Linked DNA regions of Homo sapiens: all the other regions are linked to region 1. The links come from fine-mapping of genetic effects on gene expression. A gene starts in region 1. Each other region holds a variant in brackets. All regions are shown on one strand. Distances are from middle to middle. Region 1 holds the start of KIFAP3 (kinesin associated protein 3). Region 2 overlaps KIFAP3 (kinesin associated protein 3). Region 3 overlaps KIFAP3 (kinesin associated protein 3).

What was found.
Region 2: its variant is fine-mapped to the expression of KIFAP3 in whole blood (INTERVAL, PIP 0.93).
Region 3: its variant is fine-mapped to the expression of KIFAP3 in whole blood (TOPMed, PIP above 0.99).

Annotation. Positions count from the first base shown.
Region 1 is chr1:170,072,713-170,077,949 of GRCh38, forward strand. It overlaps KIFAP3 (kinesin associated protein 3), which reads right to left and starts at 1,983. Exons shown (of 20, transcript NM_014970.4): 1 at 1,724-1,983. The coding sequence starts at 1,755. RefSeq lists enhancers at 1,792-1,851, 1,912-2,211.
Region 2 is chr1:169,998,382-170,003,618 of GRCh38, forward strand. All of the region lies in intron 10 of KIFAP3 (kinesin associated protein 3), which reads right to left. Among named protein-coding and RNA genes, the nearest start is that of KIFAP3, 74 kb to the right of the region's middle. RefSeq lists an enhancer at 4,831-5,237. The variant G/A (reference allele first, on the strand shown) is at 3,116.
Region 3 is chr1:169,919,547-169,924,783 of GRCh38, forward strand. It overlaps KIFAP3 (kinesin associated protein 3), which reads right to left. Exons shown (of 20, transcript NM_014970.4): 20 at 1,783-2,235. The coding sequence ends at 2,130. Among named protein-coding and RNA genes, the nearest start is that of SCYL3, 28 kb to the left of the region's middle. The variant A/G (reference allele first, on the strand shown) is at 2,000.

The DNA.
Region 1 (5,237 bases):
GTAATCATGGTCAAAAAACAATAATTAAAATTGAAGGTTCTATCAGACATCACAAATGTTTTCCATCAGGCCTGTATAAATACATGTCTCCTGTATGCTTCTAGTCTGAAAACAGACAATTCAAACTTTTTATTATTTATAGTAAAAATTAGATGAAATTGAGAAATGTATTTTTCAACCTTTTCAGACTCTAATCTCATTTTACTTCAAACATTACATTGACTGGCTTGGTTTTAATTTTGGAACTCTAGATAGTATGTATTTAAAAGCAAACAATAGGTTGAGAATTATAAGTCACAGTATGCCTCAGTGTCCATACTGGTACGATAATGTTAAGAAAAACTACCTCTGACACAAATATATTACATGAAAATCAGCTAATGGTATAACAGCGGCTCTTTGTTCCAGAACAATTTTGAATTTAAAGTTAAAAGGCAATTTATTTTCTTCTGTCACAAAATTTTTAACCAAGGTATTTTAAAAACCAACGTTAAGTAAAATTCAGTGAGGAAATAAACACTGATGTAGGCTTATATATTCATTTAAAAATTTTTACTGACAAAGTCTGGCTATTTGCCAGTTTCAGATATATTTACATAAAATAAAAAAGACAGTCAATATATGCCTGTCTTGCCAGGACAATAGAGTTGATTTATTTATTATACAATTGTTTGAATCCCTTCTATGAGTCTACTAACACTTGGAAGATCTTTCTGTGATGATGAGAGCTCAGCCAAGCCAGAATAAAAATATTCACTGCAAGTGTATTATGACTTGAAATAATACCACCACCTTACATTCATGTTTCATTTTTTAAAAGTATTTCATCTTTCGTCCTTGTATCTCTCAGAAGGTAACGCCTGTCCCATTTTCAGATGAGGAAACCGTGCCCAAAGGAATACATGCGACTTTTCCAGGGTATTTACTGAATCAGTACTGAATTAAAATTTTTTTCTATTGGATCACTGCTTACTCTTGGTTCAGTGGGAGGTATCTTTTTTTTTTTCCAAATCAGGAATGATCTGAGTATTTGCCAGCACCCAAATAATCCCAACAGACTACAATTTTTTTGAGTAACTGATACTATATTTAAAAGAAATTATGGCCTATTTTATTGTCATCAAACTTCTGAACAAACCTCTTAATAATTACTAAATGTCCTACAAAAATTATGTTGTATACATGGGAGTCAAATGGATGACATGGATGCGGAAAGCAGAAAGAGACTGGAAATCAACATCTCAATTCAGCCTTCCAAAAAGTAGAATCCACCACTTCTTTCCCCTTCATCATTTCAAAAGCCCATGGCAATGAACCCCAAACTGAGGCCTGAGGGCGGATGCACCAGACTTTATTCCCAGGCTCTCATGGGATTTATCTATTATGGGAAAATGGAGAGTCTGGGAAGAGGCGAAAAAAAAAACAAAAGACGCGGTTTACCTTGCCCTACCTCCCTCTCCCCCTGGAATAAGGTGATGTAGCGAAGAAACCATCTTTCAATGCTGTCAGGGCTCCGCCGAGTCAGGTCAAAGGACTTTGAAACCCCCCCAGAGCTCTCCTTTTTTCTCCACTTCACCTTTTCCCTCTCCTTTCGGTGACTTCTCTCCCTGCTTCCCATCCCGTCTGCTAAACTAGCGTTGCCCAGTGACATCTCACAGCCAACCCAAGAACATCTTCAGGGCCCTGGCAAGGAGGGTAGGACAGAGCCTTGGGGAGTCGTCACCTTTTGAGGTATCTGGCGTCCTCCCCTTGCATGGCGGCAGCGGCAGCGGCGTGGAGAGGATGGGGTATCTTGAGAGGCAGGCGCGGTTATTTCCGGGGACGGTGGCCAAAGTACCCTCACACCCAGAGGCGATGACAGTCCTGAGGCCTGCAAGGCGGGGCAGCAGCGGCGCTGTGGTTACCACGGTGAAGCCTCCAGCTCCTCCCACAGCTTCTGTGCCCCAAAACACTGGAGCGGCCCAGACCCGCCCAGAGTCGCCTAAGCCGGGCCGTCACGACGCATGCGCTTGCTCTGCACCTCTTGTATGCGCAGGCTCAGTCTGAGGCGGTGGCCTCAGAGTTTGACGCACCGGGGAGCCGAGCAGGGAAGTTTTGGTGCAGTTTTGAGCGTCCGTGTATAAGGAGTGGCTCCGTAGTCACCGCCCCCTTGAGGATGGGAATAGAAAGGGCTGTCAGGTCAGCTTGAAAGGAGAGAGGGGAATCCGATAACCTTTTAGTTAGCGAATGCTATACAGCAGTCCAGCTAATAAGGGAGGTTTCTATTTGGGGGCCTGAATGGCCCTGATTGCACTTACAAGCTCTAACTTATGGAGATAATCTGACCGTTGTACAAAATGGATATAACTTTGAAGGCGGCAAGTCTGTCACTTTGATGTCTTAAATCTAGAATACACCTCCCCCAACCAAAACAAACAAACAAACAAACAAACAACAGCAACAAAAAACAGTTCCTGAAATTCCAACTCCACCAATTATCCTGAACTCAAGGTATGTTTAGAATTGCTTCTTCTGAGGCAGGCAATTGTTAGCAGTGCAGGGCATAGGAAAGAAGGGTTCTTTTTTAACTGCATGTTCTCTGGTTTAAGATCTATTCCCATGGGTTCAGCTATTATGTCTATGCAAATGATATAGGTTCATTTATTTGGTAAATGTGAATTGAGGGCTGGCTGTGTGCCAAACACCAAACCAGGCTCTAGGGATGCAAAGAAAGCACCTCTACTCCCCCTGCTCACCTATAATCTTGTCACTTATTCACTGTCTTCTAGTCCTGTTTTCCCAGTTGCTTTGAGACGTGCACGTAGTTGCTCTGCTGCTTTTTTCAAATGTAGTACATTGATGCAATTATTGATTATCCGTTATGTGTAAAACACCATGTTAAGGCACTGCATGGTATATTAAATATAGAAATACAGTCCTTACCCAACAAAATATATTTTTATCTTCCCACCCATTCACACCAGCTACACTATTTCTGTAGATGTTATAGTCATTCTTTCATTCTGAAAGGGAAGAAAATTTGCAGCTAATTTTGACTCCTTCCTCTGTATCATGCCCTCTTACTAAAGTGTTACAAAATTCTATCTTTTCTTCCTTCAAGATATTCAGGTAGTCCAGTTTTTTTCTACATTCTTACTTCTACCAATAGTCTAATCACTTTATACCTAGAGTACTGCAATTCCTTCCTCATTGGACTTCCTATTTTTTGTTTTTCTAAATATTAATTCTGCAAACTAATGTAAAATTTTACAAATTATCATTTATAACACCTTTAATGGTAATATAGCAGGCTAGATTACTTTAAAATCTTCACAATACGTAAAATTGGAAGACCAAAATATACATTAAAATGCATAGATAATATAACAAGGATTTTTGGAATGTAAGTTAGCTCCTTGAGCTCAGAGAACTTATTTCGTTCACTTTTGCATTCAGCCCATAGTTGTCACTGAATAAAAATTTTGGTGTTGAAAAAATGCAAACCTGAGCTTGAAAAAACAATAGCAACAACAACAACAAAAAAACCTAAAGAAAATGCCCAGAGGCCAGAAAGAAAGAGAGAGCTGGAAACCAGAGCAATAAATAGATAGCTGAAACTGGGACTGAACTAGATAAACTGTCTGTCTGTGGCAGGAAAAGTACAAGATGAGCCTGGAACATTTTATGCTTGACAGTAAGGACATAGTCAGAGACTAAGAAGATAAGATTATGTAAAAAGGACACTGGTGAATTTGAGGCAATTTGGGAATCAAATGGAATTACTGGGATTGATTTAAGACATTAAATAAATAAAAAAAAGAAATCCATAATGATACTCAACAACATAGAAAAACAGGGAAAAAAGAACCCCACTTCCACTGGAGGCAACTACTGCATCAGATCTTTACTCTGAAAGCTGGTAATTAAAAGAAAGAAGGATTTAATCTAATGCTTTTGGAAATAAACCAGATTTCACCTCCTTTTAACAAGGAAAAGCTCTTCTTAACAGAAAATACCTGGTAGGAATGGAGAAAAATAATGATAGTTACTATTTTGCAAGCACCAATAAACAATGGATTCAAATAAGCCCTATTAATTTACTTTAAAATAATTTAAAGTGAGGCAAAGTTTTACCCCGCATATTTCTTTATAATTCTAAAGGAAAAGAAATGTTACTTTACAATGAGGAGATCTAGCTGTCAGCATTTTAAACAGACAAGCAAACAGCATCATTAGTGAGAGGTGAACCCAGCTGGACTTCTGGGTCGGGTGGGGACTTGGAGAACTTTTCTGTCTAGCTAGAGGGTTGTAAATGCACCAATCAGCACTCTGGGTCTAGCTAAAGGATTGTAAATGCACCAATCAGCACTCTGTACAAACGCACCAATTAGTGCTCTGTGTCTAGCTAAAGGATTGTAAACGCACCAATCAGCACTCTGTAAAAATGCACCAATCAACGCCCTGTGTCTAGCTAAAGGATTGTAAATGCACCAATCAGCACTCTGTAACACCAATCAGCAGGATGTGGGCGGGGCCAAACAAGGGAATAAAATGTCAGATTATTTTGTAAAGTTGAATAGGCACATACTCTAAATCTCAGCAATTCTACTCCTAGTTCTATACTTCATAAAATTGTTCCAAAATCATTGGAGAAGTATTGAGCTTAGTAGAAAATGAAAAACAGAAAGACAATAACAAAATACTTTTGCAGGAGAATGAATGAATACATTTGAAATATTCACACAATACAATAATATGCAGCAGAGAAAGTTGATGAACTAGAACTTTACATATGACATGGATGAATATTAGAAACATGATACTGAGTGAAAAATTGTGGCAGATTAAATACAGCATGATGCTTTATTTAAATTGCACTATAATTTAAAAACAATAACATGCATTCTTCTTGGCCTACAGTTCTCTAAGTTTTGAAAAACTCTTAAGTCATATAATTACCTGCACAATCATAGAGCAGTTCTGTCATCCTCTAAAATTCCTTTGTATCCTTTGGAGTCGCCTTATCCCCACAACCCCAGGCTCTGGTAAATACTGATCTGTTTTCTGTTCCTATAATTTTGCCTTTTCCAGAACGTCATCTGAATGTAATGATAGGCGCTGTAGCCTTTTGAATCTGGTTTCTTTCATTTAGCACAATGCATTTGAAGACAATCCATTTTGTTTTTCGGTCCTGTTTTTTTTTTTATTGTTAAGTACTATTCCATGGTATGAATGTACCATAGTTTATTCATTCACCA
Region 2 (5,237 bases), 74 kb before region 1:
ATATATATATATATATATACACACACACACACACACACACACACACACACACACACCACACACACTTTTTTTTTTTCTTGAGGAAACAGTGTGAAAGGAGGTGATGACAGAGCTAAGGGACTATAATATTCTAACCCAAGTTGCTAATGTGTCTTCTGGATTTTATGTGAGTAAAGTTTCCCCTAGAATTTAAACAACTGATTTACAAATAACTATAAATTTAATTCCCCCCCTTTTTGTAATTAGGGAATGAAAAAGATATAAACTGGCATTTGGCCTTTTATTCAGAAAAATACGTAAATATTTTATAAACGGTCTTGTTACCCACATATTATCTTGATGATTCTAGTTCTATCCTACAGTTACAAATCACATATTTTCTTTCTCTTCTAAATAATTTCAATATATGAAGACTACAGTATATAAACCATATGTATCTTATTCACTGAATCATAAATGATTACATAAATAATCAATACTTAATAAAAATGCAGCCTATAACTTCACGGCATCTAGCAGATATCTGGAACCTACAACAAAAAGACAAGGCATTTTAGAACAAAATTGAGTACGTGGAGGGGGAAGATGTCTGGCAATAACCTGAATTCATCTATTCAAACACAGGTCTGCAAAGAAAGTAAAGACTCTTTGGCAGCCAACATTTAATATTACGACTTAAAGGCTAATTTGCAGATCACATAGCAATAAACAGCTATTAGAGAGATTAAATGGTCTAAGTAAAATAAAGAGCTTATCTTTTATTGTAAACTAATAGTCTTCTTCATTCACTGAAAGAAAGAACATCTGAGTTCTTACAAAATAAAGCTCAAGAAAAAAAATCTTATATACCCTAAGTGAATTCCTACAAGAAATGAGGATTGGAGGGTATGATTTTCTCGTAAGAATTCATGACTAGAAGCCATAAACTGTAGCTAACCGGCTATGATTCCTCTACATCCTACAAATGGTAGACATTTCAAAAAGGCTCCTTTAAGACATAAAGACATCAATTATTCCCTAACGGCATCCCAAGTAAAAACAGGCTGCCAACAGTCAGCATGCTGGCACAGCACCAAAGACTGTGAATTTTAAGCAAGGGCAGTGAAAAGACTGAGTATCTTGAGAACTAGGTTCTTAATGACTGGAGGTGGATTAGTTAAATCTGTTCAAGTAATAAGGGCAGGGTAGAAAAAAAATGGCCTAGTCATTATGATTCCTTTGGTATTTATGGTAATAAACATGAATCATGATGAACTCACTGGCTATTAAACGCAGAGGTCATAAGTACTTCGATAGGATTTCCACAGGAATTCACCGTTAATTAGCTGGATCATTATTTGAAAGTGTTACTGAATTATCTTAGCATTTGTGCAGCCATTCCCCTCAAATTGGTCATTCCCAGCTGAGGGCAGTTAATGCCTTAACAAACTGGTCATTAACTCCAGTAACTGATTTTGTGGGAATTATTGCACTTATAAAGTACATTCAAGAGTTTATAAGAAACATTGCATCTTTTTTTCTTTTTAAAGAAATTTACAGCTGTAGTTCAGCTGGAGCAGCTGAAGGAGAAAAAACTATCAGCTCTCTGGGCTGCTCTCACAATCGATTTTCTGCCAATTAAAGGGCAAAACACATGCTGATGGGTTTTGAATTTTAAAATGTCTTCAGTTTTTTCATCTGTGAAGTGATCAGTAAAAACACCATTCAATTACTAATTTTGTAAGACACTTGGGATTTTTCATTCACAGTTCAGTCAAGCAGAAATACGAGTTCTGAACATGAGAACTCAAAAGCCAAATTTCCGCTTCTGCAGTAGATCCAGCCCAACACTGTGAAAACAAAGTGAGAACACAAGTTATGGGCCACATTATTAGCCAGATTCTCATTCCCTTCTATACTCTATGTCTTCTTCTTTCAAAGTGGAACACTCCCTTTGATGTCACAGAGGCTCCATGAAAAGATAATAGAAGTGGGAATATAAGCACACCTATATTAGGATAGAATAGCATTAAGGTGATATATTACCCCTGGAAAGTCTATATGAATACAACGTGCTTCAAAATTTGCAGGTGTCTTTACATTTATTACGGAGTGAGAGCCCCTAAAGTTCTATCAATACAGTGAAAATGCCACAGGTGAAAACCACCACTTAAAAGATAATTGCAACAATTATTGAACATGTTAACTACACACTGACATAGACTAAAAACACATTGAAGCTATATCAGAACATCTTTGATACATGTTTCCATATAATTTTATGCTTAACTTATTAGAGCATATACTGCAGATATATACTCAATATAAACAGATAGCCTTAGTTTAAACTTGAATTTGCACAGACCAATGTTTAAGACTGTAACTACATTGGATGATCTCTTTTATAATATATTTGTCTATAGTCGAGATTTGAGATGAACAGATAAAAACCAACAGTTGTTAACCAACAGTTAAGGGGAAAAAATAACATAATTTATAGGTTACAAAGATCAGTATGAAAACATTAAGTACAACAATAGTTTCTGAGGTACAGTGGTTCACGGATAAGTAATTTTTTATGTCCAATTATTTAATTTTAAAAGTATGAGAAACTAACATTGCAGATCTACCAGTAAGCTAAACATTGTTTTTAGAGATAGTCACTAAATGAGTACTCTTATATAGAACATTTTTGATAGATTTTCATTTGTTTTAGTATGTACAACTGTACATTTTGCCACACAGCTTATTTTTCATCATATCTTCAATTATTTTATTATGTCTTCTGTAGAATTTTTATTACATCCATAGAATACAAGTTATTTGCAATAAGATCTAAAGAATACACATACTTGTGGTACAAATGATAAGGATCAAAATAAAGCCCTTAACAATGACTGCTTTCTAGCCTGTATGTCCAAATCATTGACTTAATATGCTTTGGCCAAATTTTACCATCTAGAAATGGAGACACCCTAGGCAATATTCACACACACACAGTATTGGAACCAGCTGGTGACAGAAGAATCTTAAGAAAAAAGGCTTCTTGATTTAATTGGGAAAACAGGAGGAAGCATAAATTTTACTGCCATTAATAACTTCAAGCAATCTTGATATGAGTCTACCTCACCCTGAC[G/A]GCGAGACATGTGCTTTCTGTTAAACTGTTTGCCACTTCTGACCCCTATTGTTTGCTCACTTGATCAGGTAAGAAAATGTAGGTTTATTTATAGGATAAATGAGGCCTATTAAAATTGAGAAACAGTGTAGTAGTCTATGAGGAGTTGTGTTCTGAAACAGATGTGTGAAATTCCATAACAGTTCGGTAATAAACAGAACAACCAAACCAATTTATTTTTTAAAAAATCTACTTTAAGTTTCTTAAAGAAACTATCATAAAGGCAACCTAGTTTCAAAAAAATGGAAAACACTTCATTTTGCTTGGAAATCATTATTCTGACCATTTCCAAACAGTTTTTAATAAGTCAGAAAAGGCAAAATGTTGCTTTCTTCACAAAATAAAGTTTCATTTTTTCATTCTTTATGATGCTGTTGGTAAATTAAAAGTTAGATCATATTAATATAAAGTAAATAAGTGAATTTAAAATTGTGGAAAAATTTCAAAGGTGTTCAGAAGTTAACTTTGTCAATTTTCTTTTAAAGACATATGACAGAATGGTCAAAGGAAATAACCCTTAGTTTTTATATGATCAAAGTTTAGAGTTCAACAGTATCTGCTCTGGTGATCTCCAAAAATAAGGGAAATCAGACTTGTCTAAACCGGAAGAAATCAAACATTTGTCACTTAACTCTTGACCTGGTCTGACTCCTTACATGCTGATGAAACTGTTCTACAGCTCTGTAAAATGCCCCAAACCCATATTACCTAAATGTAATCTAGACAAAAATGAATCAGGTGCCATTCTTACTCTCAAAATCAATTTTGGGTCTACTCACAGAATAGAGAAACATTTATATCAATATGGAACACCTTAGAAACTCTAATTTGTCTTCCAATGAAGACAATATGGTCTAACATTACTGACTAAAAATTAGACCTTTTGAAATTATTCACATAAAATTGTGAAACAGGCCTGATGTGCTATTGAATTTAGGAGTCCCAATTTTCCTGTCATAACCAATAACATTAGTTTCTGCACAAGCCAGCCATGCAAACTGGCACAGATTTAAAACTCTTAAAGTTAGAAGAATCAAAATTTACACAGGTAGAACTCAGAATCAAAATTTAAATGATGGCTCAAACCTTCATACTAGTAGCTTTCAGTGCCATACGTTTATCACTGACCAGGGTGGCTCTGCTGATTAAAAGATAACTTTAAGAAATATGTCAGAGCTATTAACTTTTTTAGTTAATTTGCATAGGTTTATAAATTATATATGAAAATGCTTAACACAAGTACACCAGATGAATATTCACTTATTCTAAGTATAGAAAAGCTTAGCAACATCTATTGGTAACACTACTAATTCCTCAGTTTTTAAGGATGAGAAACATTCTCATCTCTGCTTATAAATGAGCTAAGGAGGTATCCCAAGGCAGGGTAATTCTGTGATACTGGGTTCTAATTATATGGACTTCTGAATACGTTTAAAGAACAGTTTACTAACCTAGGATTAAGACTGCCATTTCATCTATTTGAACAGTGGTTCTCAAACTATCTGTGGTGGTGAGCCAGGTTTTTTCATTTCTTCCCCTAACATTTTTATTAAAGTACAATAAAAATGAAATTAAACAAAAGATATATAAAATAGAAGATGCAAATTTTTATTATTACATTCAGCAGACAAAATCTTATTCAGTCAAACTGCTATATGTGTCTAAGTGCTTACTTTCAATTTTTGGACTTACTCATTATAGACCAGTAACAACCAATAACAAATAGACCAAGTATTGCTCTGTGGACCATACTTTGAGTATCACTGTATTAGAAGATTCCTGCCCTGAATTCACTGATACATGAGAAAGCTATAAAATATAAGTGAAATTAAGGTGCTATTTCAATGTTTAAAACAAACCCTCTATAACAAATCCTCCCGGCCGTGTGAGGTGTCAGTCCACACCTACTGGGGGGTGCCTCCCAGTTAGGCTACTCGGGAGTCAGGGACGCACTTGAGGAGGCAGTCTGCCCGTTCTCAGATCTCAAGCTGCCTGCTGGGAGAACCACTAATCTCTTCAAAGCTGTCAGACAGGGACATCTAAGTCTGCAGAGGTTACTGCTGCCTTTTGTCTGTTTGTGCCC
Region 3 (5,237 bases), 150 kb before region 1:
TGCCTGTAATCGCAGCACTTTGGAGGCTGAGGCAGGTGGATTACTTGAGCTTAGGAGTTCGAGACCAGCCTGGGCAACATAGTGAGACCTCATCTCTGCAAAAAGTAAACAAAAAATTAGCCGAGTGCAGTGGCACGTGCTTGTAGTCTCAGCTACTTGGGAGGCTGAGGTGGGAGGATCACTTGAGCCTGGGAGGCTGAGGCTGCAGTGAATGATGACTGTGCCACTGCACTCCAGCCTGGGTGACAGAGCAAGACCTTGTCTTAAAACAAATCTTTTTTTACATAGTCTTCCTTATTAATCTCTTTAGAAAAATATTCCTTCATAAATAATGCAATGGTAAGCCAGTTCAAGCCTGAGTGGAAAGATTACAATTTCTAAATTTGTTAAGTCCTATACTAATGAAAACAAAATTAGGGAGAGTGAGCATGTGCACGTAAAATTGAGCGAGCATAGCCCTGGGAATTTTATCAATTTTGGCGGGTGTTCTTCCTAATGCAGTTTATAACAACATGAGGGAAGTTAAAGCTATAGGATGTTTGCATCATTTTCCTATTAATGTCACTTATGTGTATTTATACTTTGTACACATGATAAATAATAAAACAAGCTATTTAGTATTGAGATTGCTGAATAGGAAGCAAAGAGACAGCCTATGTCATTGACTAAGTCACTTAACCTCTCCTGGCCAGTTTTTTTGACTGCAAAAATTAGAGTTGGACAGGGTTGCTTCTAAGGCCTTTTCCAGCTTTAATATTTTATGGTTAAAATAGAAACTAAGACAAATAAATGTATGTTTTCAGAAAGATCAAAGGCATAAACATACCTCAGATTTACATCTCCTAAGGGGCATCATATACTTCCTTACACATAGCAGGTAGTCAGGAAAATATCTGTTGATTACATTTAAATTTTTTATGTGATTGGTTTCTTAAATAAGTAGATGGAATGAGTTATTTCAAAGGCCTTTTCCAAATGTTATCTTCTGCTTAAAATGTAATTTAAGCCACATAAATAGTGTAGTTAGATCAATGAGATTTTAAATTCAAGAACAGAAGTCTTATCTTTGATCTATGTATTCCCTTTGAAGCTTCATATTTTCTCCCATAGCAGGTGATCATGGAACTATCTCTGATTATAGTTATTATTATGGTTATTTCTTTGCTCAGCTTTTCAAGTAGAATTGAACATTTTTTTAATATGAAAACACTGAACTATTTTCAAAACCCATTATGAATTATATAATGTCTCTCCATTTCTTGCTATCTAAATGTACGTTATAAGAACAAGTGAACAATTGGGAACTGGGTACCCAAGTGAGTGAAATATTCTGTTCCTTAGTTTTCCTTAATGCGACTTTTAATTAGCTTTCCCATGCTTTAGATACTAAATTTATGAAGAATAAAAGTTAAAAGCCAAATGCTAATCTTGTATCACTGCTTGTCTTGTATACTACTTGTCCTAGGATTTCTATATTACAACTAGGAAGATATGAATTAAAACCACCAAAGAGACTATAACCATAAATAACTTATGACATATGTTCCATTATTAATTGAAAACTCATAGTTAATAAACTTTGGGAAGGAAACTTTCAGGCACATGGCATGGAATATGAAGGTGATGTTCTTTTTATAAATTTTAAAGGTAGCATATATTATACAAATTACTCAAGAGTTTACAAGCAGAAAAAAAGGAGAAAAAATAAAATTCACGCGCACCCTATATTAACATGTAATTCGTAGTGAAATGTGTGAAATATAAACACATGACTTTCACTTATTCATTTTCACTTTACGCTTTTTAATTGAAATTAAATTAGTCACTTAACATACATAATGCAGTGTTTGTTTTCCAGTCTAGTAGCTTTTCAGCATTCAGTTTTGTGGCTCATGGGAAATGTTACTTAGCATCAAGATGTGGTTTGATGAGTGAACAATGTCAGTATCAACTGTACTTAACAGAAGACAGAGGGGCTGGGGTTAATCTGCAGCTAACA[A/G]CATATAAAAATAAAAACAAACACAGACCCACAATAACATCAACATGCATTATTAGGCAAAGATCCAAAATTAACCCAACCCACACAGATTTCTTCTAAGCTGAGATTACACATGGAAACAGATACTTTATCAAGATCCATAGCCATAGTAGTAAGGTTCATCAGGGCGGAATCCATATGCTGTGGCAGGGCGTCCAAGAATGCCAACTGGTTGGCCAAAGCCATCCATTCCAAGGCTAAAAAAGAAAAAAAAGAATGATAAGCTATGTTTTTCATCACACATCCACAATGCAGATTAAGAGGCCTACATTTTTATACCACCAAGATTCTCTTCCTAGCAGGGATAGTGATTTAGGTGGATATCATTAACTTTTTTTTTTAAGGTTAATAGAGCCATTAAAAGTGTATATAATAAAATACTTCTAACAATGTGTGTTAAAAGTATGGGAAACCTCTGTCAGTAGGTACTATTTGAAACAAAGTGGAAGAATCAAATCAGAAAAGTTTTATTTAATAAATTACTTATATATGGCTCTTAAGCAAAAATATGAAAAGATTTTACATGCTAGCAATGATCAGTAATATATTGCTAGGGAATGATAAAAATAAAACTGTAGTAAAGTGAGTTTTGCTGTTTATAATGTCTTTTCATATGAAGATACAGGACTAATTCCACTTTTAGTAAAAACATGTGTTTGAGTTATATCAGTGAACTCTCATGCAGGGCCAAATCATACCATAAGCCTATGATTAAAAGAACAAGATAAGGAATTTGACAAAATTTGAAAATTAGTCAGATTTGATCTGCAAATCCTTCCTCTGATTCCTCAATGCAAACAATTACAAAACATATCTATTTCTTTTGAGTGACAGCAAGACAATTACAAATTTTGGTTCAACTTATTCTATGGGAATAACAGAAACCCAAAGATAACCTTCAGAGTTGTAAAGATAGCTTGAAGTATGTTAAACTTCATGATTATTATTTTAAAAAAATTACTTGTTGGTCTATTAATACATTATTTAGAGGAAAATCTGTTCTCCAAAGTCCTTTTTAAAGGTCAGGGAATTATCCAACACTTAGGAAAATGATAAAGTATTTATTTTGCCAGGCAGAACATGGTGGCCTTAACATGCTCATGCATAGCTCATGCAGTGAATGCTAGTGAGCTTGACTTCCAATCAATGGACACCATTTGTAATGCAGAAATGTAAGCTTTGGAAAAATAAAACATATTTAAATGATTTAAGATTTAAGTTTGCACTACATGAGATGGAAAGATAATTTTCCCTCAATAGCAAAAACTGAATGTGATGAAAAAATATATTCACATAGGCACTAACTCCCTGTCACACTCAGAGTGAGATTAAGTTGACACACTTTAGAAGTAACTATTAAAATGTTAAGGTTTTAAATAAATGTGTGAATGCGTGTGTGTGTTTGTGTGCACGCGTGCTTGTGTGTATTAAGATGGAACTAAAGAGTAAATGTAAAGAGCCAAAATACATATAACACATACTGGTCCAGTGACTCTGCCCTTTAGGAGAATGGAAGTTCTGAAATACAAGTTTCAGGTTAGCATTTGTACTGAGCGATTCTGGACAAAATTTGTTGTTTTGGGGTCCTTCTATATAAAAACTCTGTCTATAGTTTCTCAAAGTTGGTTGAAATTTTTAAGTCTACATTTTATTTTGAAATGGTAAAAATATAGGCACTTTTTCTAACTTTGATCTCATGGGAAGAGAGACTAAATTTTGTGATGAGGAAATCAAGAGGTAGCTTAAAAGATGCTTCAGAAATTAGTGGAATCAGTGAACTAAGAGACACTGGTATCAGCTTAAAATTAGAGAAGTTATTGAAAACTGTTCTCTGCAAGCACTAAGGCTAACAAGTAATCATGTATCTAAAGAACTCTCAATTATATAACTGTTGATTACATAGCTTGGATTTCAACTTGTTCCTTCTTCATCTTTTGCTTATTACCTGTCTTCAACCAGTCCTTATCTTTTTTAGCAACTCCTCTGAGGCCAAATAGCAGTAGACTTAGGTTAAACTCAAGTTAATCTTATGCTTGTTTCTCAATCTAGGGGCTATGGCAAGATCTATTTCAGTAATATGAAAACAAGAGGCATATGTGGGACAGTGAGGAAACATGCAAAGGCACCTTCAGAGTATCTCACAGACGACTTGTTAGCAATATCACTGTAATTCTACCTAAAAGAAGATGGTCCTCAGAAGGGAGTTCACCAGTCATTGGCACAGAACAAGGAGCGTCTCAGCTACAACGCTGGTTGTAGCAACCTAGGCAATTGCGTGGTGATCTGGTAAGCTATAACACCATAAGGAATATCTGGCCTTTTTGCAGTTTGGTCCTCAATCAGGAAGGGAATTTAACATTCTCAGAGTCTGAGGCCATTCTACATTCAAGTTGCAAAATTCTCCCCCTTTTTTTTATTTCTACGACTAATAGGCAAACTATTGATCACTGTAATTTCCCATGTAATTTGCCAACAGGTTAAATAATAAACTTAGATATTACCTAATCCACCTGATGGTTATAACTTTCATTGTACATTAACAAATGGATTTTTCTTTTTAAAATATGTCATGCACATTGTTGATAAAAACCTGCAGTCCCAAGTCAGTGAAAGACTGGCCCTTGAGCACTGATGAGTCTGAGTTTCTGAACCTGTAAATCTCTGGTCTTGAACAGTATGGTCTTTAGGTTACTATGGTAAAGATCTATTTATGTAGTCAGCAGTTCACCCAGAGACATCTGTGTGTATTACAGTGTAGAGGATATCATTTAATTTTTCGAATTTCTATATACAAATATCGTTTTGGAAAAAAGGAATAAAATTTGAAACCAAACTCTAAAATGATCTTTTCTGGAATTCTCCATTATGTATCACAGATGAACTTGCTGTTTAAAGCAAAAAATATTTAAAACATTTATGATCAGTTTGGAGAGTACTTTGACATAGGTCCTAGGTCCTTTTGTATTATGAAAAATCAACTATATCTACATACATTTTTAATTAAATTCACTGTGAAACATAACAGTTTGTTTCTTTAAACTCTCATTTGCTTCTTTCTAATATAGTGGGGGAAATCAGGCTTTCTAGGATGCTAAAACCTGGAGACATTCTTTTGGAATATGTAGACACTTTACTTTTTTCCTTGGGAAAAGGATACAGCCTTGCTAATGCTGAGTTTAGTTCAAAACCCGGAGAGTTT